Linked DNA regions of Homo sapiens. The protein of the gene in region 1 purifies or fractionates together with the protein of each later gene. This does not show direct contact. Each region holds a gene or a part of one and is shown in the gene's direction. Other genes may lie near its edges.

Region 1 (3,500 bases):
GCTTTCTGGACCCTATCAAAGAAATTTGTCTGCCGAAAAGTTGTGCAGATACTGTTCTGTCGACTTCTACAAGCTTTTAGTTTTAGCTTTTCCATTTAAGTCTGTGATCATTCTCAAATAATTTTTGTGTGTAGTGTGAGGTAGGCCTTGAGATCCACTCTCTCCTTCATGTAGCTTTCCCGTTGTTCTGGATTCATATATTAAAAAACCTTTTCTTTCATTGATTTTCTGAAATTGACATATTTTTAACAGCAGTTTTAGGTTTACAGAAAAATTGAATGGAGAGTATAGAGTTCCCATATAACCACCCCCTTTCCCCTATTATCAACATTAACTTGCATTAGTATGGTGCATTTGTTACCATTTTTGTGCCAATATTGATACATTATTATCAAGTAAAGTCTGTAGTTTACATTAGAGTTCAGTCTTTGTGTTGTACATTCTATGAGTTTCCACAAATGTGTCATGGCATTTATTGAGGTATTGCTCCTCACAAGAGGGCATTAGCTGCGGGGGTCTGCCTGCAGACCTTGACCTAAAAGATGGATGAATGAAACGTACACTGACACACAGATATTGCTTTGCCAGTACTGCTGAGTGTCCGACTGCCTACACACCGAGAGAGGTTTGTCACTGCCGCTGGCCCTGAGTAGTTCACACTCCAGGCATTTATTTCGTATACAATTAACAACAGAAGCTCTGAGTCCACACACTTTTGGATAATTAACATGGTTAAGTGAGTAGTTCTATGAATGATTAAAGCTCAGGTACCGAGGTTTAAAGTAAATATCACTGGGGGCAATATCCCTGCCCCCCCAGAGGCCATCTGACTTAAAGGTTAGTTAACAGAGGTAGGGTAAACAGACTTAACTGGGGAAGCCTCTATTGTCCCTAGTATTTACTCTGTAACTTAATGCTCTAAGGTAAGAACCGGCTGTCTTCGGCCTGTTCAGCTATTACAAGCTATGTAACCTTTTGGCCTTCCAAAAAGGTTTGTGACTATTCCCTATAACTTTCCCTAATATTTCCCTTTAATATTTCTGCCACTATCCTGAGTGAATCCCAACAACTTATCTTCCATTATAGTATGATACGGAATAGTTATCCTCTCCTAAAAACCGCTTGTGCTCCACCTATTCATTTCTCCCTTCTTCCCTCCGTTCCCTGTAATCCCTGGCAACCACTGATCTTTTTACTGTTTCCGTAGTTTTGCCTTTTTAAAGAAGAAGAATAGAGTATGTATCCTTTTCAAATTGACTTCTTTCACTTAGCAATATGCATTTAAGGTTTCGCTATGTCTTTTTATGGTGAGAACTTATTTATCTTTATTACTGAATAATCTTTTATTTTATAGCTGTACCAGTTTGTTTATCTAGACCATCTGGAAACTACCAGTGGGAACACTAGACTTCTGATCATACCAGATAGGGAAGTTTTATTCTGTCACATGTGTAAAGGGTTGCTGATGTTAAACAGCATTGTATACACATCGGCATTATTTGCAGTTTCATAATTCAGAAAATGTGAATTTTTAATATTTCTGAGTCTCATTTATATGCTTTGTATATATTGACCCTGAGAAGAAAAATAAGTTTTATGCAAAGTCTCATCTTAAAATCATATAGCACATACTTTTGTTTTAGTTTTAAAGCTTCTAATAATACTTTCGTGATTTAGCCAAAAAATAGTCATGGTCAATATTTACATTTAAAGGGTAAGCTGTCTTCTAATGGAATGCTTGCATCATGCTAAATTAAATAATTAAAGAATGCATTTTTAAGCTTTGAAATTTGGTCTATTTACAGAAACGTAACATGGATCCCAGTTATAAAACGCATATGAGGTCTTTTTAGAAGTTATATGGGGTTTGCTTGGTTTCAATGTAGCTAAAGAGTAATACTGTCCTCCCTAAGGAATCCTGCAGTGGGGAGTTGAGATGGTTTTTTTTCTTGGACAGGGTGGCGGGGGCAGGTTAGTTTATCCAGTTAGAAAGTTAATGTGCCCAGTTAGACAGTTAATGTGCAATTACTTATATAATAAAGTTTGAGCTTTCTCAAAACCCAGTGGTATTCTAAAGTGATGTTTTGGCATGACATGTGGTAAGTTTTAATTGAGGTAAACTTTTTCCATATTAAATTAGACCATTAATTTGATGTTTGTTCTTTGAAGATTATTTGAAGCTTGTAAAGTTTGGTTCACCTTTTAACTTTGTGGATGTGTTCTTTATGTTACGCTCTTTCTTCCTTCTTCTTCCCAGGGTATAGTTAATAAAGTGTCTTCTAGCCACATTGGCTGTTTAGTACATGGGTGTTTCAATGCCTCCATTCCTAAACCTGAGCAGTTGTCAGCTGAGCAGTGGCAAACCATGGAGATAAACATGGGTGATGAACTAGAATTTGAAGTATTTCGTTTAGACTCAGATGCTGCTGGAGTATTCTGCATTCGGGGAAAACTAAATATCACAAGGTTAGTTTATCATTACGTAATTATCACTAGGTACTTAATTTCTATTTAATTCTGAATTTTAAAGAGAATTTTATTTTAATTTTAAAGAGAATAAGCCTCTCTAAAAATACCTGTTTATAGGAATATTCATGCTTTCAAACCATAAAGTCAATATAAACAATACTCTTAAGTAATCTGTAACAGTGCATCAAATAAATATTCTGAAACACAGACTAGCTAACTGGTCTGTATTTTAATATTTAATAGTTCAATTTTGCTGAGTATTTTCTATTTTGTTGTTAACTTTTTTTTTAAAGTTGACCTCTAAACTTGAAACTACTGAAAGCACAATTACCTTCCTAACTATTGGCCTGCTTTGTTTTTACACACAAAAAATTGTGTTGATTATTGTCTTCTGTGCCAGATATTTTAATTTCTGTATTATTCTGTATAGAAATTATTATAAGAATTAACTCTGATCTTGAGCTTGATTCCATGGGAGCCAAGTTTAAAGGAAGAAGGAGAGAGACAACTCTTAAAATGCTGCTATTGCTAATAATTTTTTCTGTATTTTGCCTTAAAGTTACAAGAGTATGGGTTGAAGTTCTGGAACAGCTGTTCAATTTCTGTAATGACAGAAATACAGTTTATATACATAGTACAGCAGCCTCACTATTGAGCATTGAAATATGACTAAGTCTGACTGAGGAACTGAATTTCTAAAGTTATGTTTTTGGTAGTGATTAGGTACATGTGCCTAGTGCTACTGTATAAGACTGAAGTTCTGGAGAGAAAGCTACTTCATCGATCCATGTTTTATTTTAGTGGTGTAAAATAATTCACAATGTTAAAGTAATACTATCTTAGTATCAGCTAAGTAGAACAATGGACTATTATTTGAAACAAGATTAAAATAGTAGACTGGAAACTCCATTGCTTTGATAAATACCAGATCATATTTTCTATTAGATGTCAGTGGTTTGGTTAATAAGCCTAGGTATTGTGGTGTTTAATGTTCAGTGACCAAATTTTTCTGAAACAACCCAAAACTTGGA
Region 2 (3,500 bases), on another chromosome or scaffold:
GATCATGAAACAAATCAGTGAGAACCAGCATTCCTTGACAGTAGTGATTTTTGCCTGAAGTCTTTTTACATTCACTTTTTTGAGAGTCGTGGATATCCCCCTTATTATCGTTTAGAGTATTGTTTCTCCCAGCAAAACAAAACTATTGGTGAGAATTCTTTGAAATGAGGACAGTAGTTTCTTGCTGGTATTACTGTAAGTCAAAACCTAATTTGCCATTGCCACAGAATTTTTAGAAATTGTGTATATCCAGCTATATCTAAGTCTAAACACAGTGGATTGTTTTGTTTTTTTTTTGTGATGGAGTCTCGTTCTTGTCATCCAGGCTGGAGTGCAGTGGCGCAATCTCAGCCCACTGCAACCGCCACCTCCTGGGTTCAAGCGATTCTCCTTCCTCAGCCTCCCAAGTAGCTGGGATTGCAGGCGCTCGCCACCACACCTGGCTAAGTTTTGTATTTTTTTTTTTTTTTTTTTAGCAGAGATGGGATTTTGCCATGTTGGCCAGGCTGGTTTCAAACTCCTGACCTCAGGTCATCTGCCTGCCTTGGCCTCCAGAATTGCTGGGATTACAGATGTGAGCCACCATGCCTGGCTGTGGATCATTTTCCTTTTAAAGTAGCCATGCCTTAGTCTGCTTTTCAAGAATGATCCTGTTCTTTGGTGAATTCCAAGAGCAAATGCAAACTCTTGATTTGACATTTTGGTTATAGTAAATATTGTTGAATGAGGTTTAGAATTTGTTTTATAAAACTTTTATTATGGAATTTAACTTGTAAAGTTAAAGGGAAATTAACCTTAGCCTCCTATTTGGAGTTGGAATTAGCATTTGAATGTTTTTATATTTTACATGTATGCGTATTAACAGCTTTTGTTGATTGGGTGATTCTTATCCCTATATTAACAAAGTTTTGGAATATATGTGTCAGTAAAGAACATAGATGTGCTATTTTGGAAATCTTTTTTATGATGATATTAGCTTCTTACTCTCTATTGAAGCATAGATATCTATTTTAGATTTTGTCATCTTCAGGGAAATTCTTAGGATCATTGTTTAAGGTTCTCATTGTTTTCTCAAGATTTGGTTCACCGATGCTTTTATAATTTACATTGAAACTGATAAAAACCCATTATGTTTGGTTTGTTATTAATCATTAACTAAATATGTACATAGACATATATTATTCTATACAGAGTAAATAATTTCATTCTTTTTTACTGCTACATTGAAAATAATGTTCTGGATTTTCTCTTGCCTCTGTTTTTTTTTTTTTGTTTTTTGAGATGGAGTCTCGCTCTGTCGCCCAGGCTGGAGTGCAGTGGCGCGATCTTGGCTCACTGCAACCTCTGCCTCCCAGATTCAAGCAATTCTCCTGCCTCAGCCTCCCGAGTAGCTGGGACTACAGGGGCGCGCCCCCACGCCCTGCTAATTTTTTGTATTTTTCTTAGAGACAGGGTCTCACCATGTTAGCCAGGATGGTCTCGATATCCTGACCTTGTGATCCTCCCGCCTCAGCCTCCCAAAGTGCTGGGATTACAGGCGTGAGTCACCACGCCCGGCCTAGAAACATGACTTGTAATGAAAAATTAAGTTCTTCAAAACTCGAGTTTGACACATGCATGTTGTAAATTGGTATTTTCTTTTTATATATACTTCAGATCAACAGAGGAGGATATTTTTGCCACCACCACCTGGAATTAGAAAATGTGTCATATCCACCAATATTTCTGCAACGTCTTTGACAATAGATGGAATCAGGTAAAACTTTTGAACTTTCTCTTAAAGTCAAGGAAGCCTATCGTTACTAAACATTAGCTAAACATTACTGAGTTTGCTTTTCTGTGCCCTCCACTAATTCCCTTCTCTCCTACTTTTTGATGTTCTTAACATGTAATCACCTATTTTGTTTTGTAATTATTGATTGCTTTGAGCAGGAAATGGAGTAGGAGGTACATACTATATTCCTATTCACACTTTTTGTTTTTTTAGAGACAGGGTCTCATTATGTTGCTGAGGCTGGAATATAGTGACTATTCACAGGCGTGCAGTCATAGCACACTACAGCCTTGTATGGAGATCAGCCAATCCTCCCGCCTCAGTCTCCTGGGTAGCTGGGACCACAGGCATGTGTCACCGTACTTGGCTGTTCACACTTTTTAACTACTTGGCAACTTGAAGCTTCTTTTCAAATTTAAGATTATGTATAATGCTTTATGGGTTTCACTAAATAGGAAGCCAAACCTATTTTTCTGTACTCCCATTATAAGCATATACCTTAGATGATTTGATATTTCCTTCTACCTTGCAGCCTCACTCGGTAGAGTTAGTTTGTATATCCAGTGTTTATCTGGATGTATTGTCTCTGACTTTTTACCTTTTTGTGAAAATTAACTATGATTCAGGTCCCTTATCTTTTCTGGATGTAGTAAATAGTGCTATCAAATTTTTGGGTAAATTTAGTAAGGAAACACTAAGAAATTTTAAGTCTGGACTGACAACTAATGCAAAGTTCTTTAAGACTGGGTTATTTATCATTTACCGAATATATTTTATTTCTTTAGCTAAGTCTGATTGTCTGTCTCCGGAAGGCTGAACCTGAATCTCAAAGATCCTGTGTGTTTCTTCTGGGTAAAATGATCACCCAGGTCTGAGAGGAAGTCTAATTTCCTCTGCTTTTCTTCGTTACTTTAAAAATAATGGTTTCACTAAGGGATTAAGGGAGTGCTCTCCTGGGTAAATTAACCTCTGTAATTTTCTGTTTCCTGCACAGGCAAAAGCCATTAAATAGCATGTTTCAGAATGTTGTCTTGTTACTGCTATCCTACTTTGGTTCCTTACCTGACTTGTTCACCATTTAATTGGCTTAGAATGGCATGTTAAGGGCTAGTTGAAATTAGATTCTGAATCTGTTTAAATGGTCTGAAGCTGACTTTCAAGTTTGTGTATTTTTGTATTGAGGCAAAATTCACATAAAATTAATCATTTAAAATGAAAAATTAAGTAGTACTTAGTACATTTACAGTATTGCGCAACCACTGCTTCTGCTTAGTTCTAAAATATTTCAACACCTCAAAATAAAACCCCATACCCATTAAGCAGGTACTCCACATTCCCCTCTTGACCCCAGCCCTTGGCAACTACCAGTCTTACTTTTTGTTTGTACGTATTTTCTTTTTTAAAAAATTCTTTAGATGTGTCAGCAGGAAGCAGTAGGTATTTTCTATTCTGGATATTTCATACAAATAGAATCATATAATATGTGGCCTTCTGTGTTTGCTTTCTTTCACTTAGCATAATATTTTTGAGGTTCGTCCACATTGTAGCATGTATCAGTACTTCATTCTTTTTTGTGGCTGAATAATATTGCATAGTGTGTGTGTGTATATATATATATATATATTCCATTGTGTGTGTATATATGCGTGTGTATATATACTACATACATATATGCAAAGCAATTTGTTCATCCCTTCTTCCATTAATGGTTAATGGACATTTAGGT

The links. Proteins that work in one complex are often made in the same cells at the same time.
Region 2: the proteins of POLR1F (region 1) and DHX40 fractionate together in Homo sapiens (co-fractionation; one large-scale study listed by BioGRID). This does not show direct contact.

Annotation. Positions count from the first base shown.
Region 1 is NC_000007.14:19,699,038-19,702,537, reverse strand, and holds part of POLR1F (DNA-directed RNA polymerase I subunit RPA43), read left to right. Parts: intron 1-2,257; coding exon 2,258-2,466; intron 2,467-3,500. UniProt on the Homo sapiens protein: Component of RNA polymerase I (Pol I), a DNA-dependent RNA polymerase which synthesizes ribosomal RNA precursors using the four ribonucleoside triphosphates as substrates.
Region 2 is NC_000017.11:59,575,610-59,579,109, forward strand, and holds part of DHX40 (probable ATP-dependent RNA helicase DHX40), read left to right. Parts: intron 1-1,656; coding exon 1,657-1,756; intron 1,757-3,500. UniProt on the Homo sapiens protein: Probable ATP-dependent RNA helicase.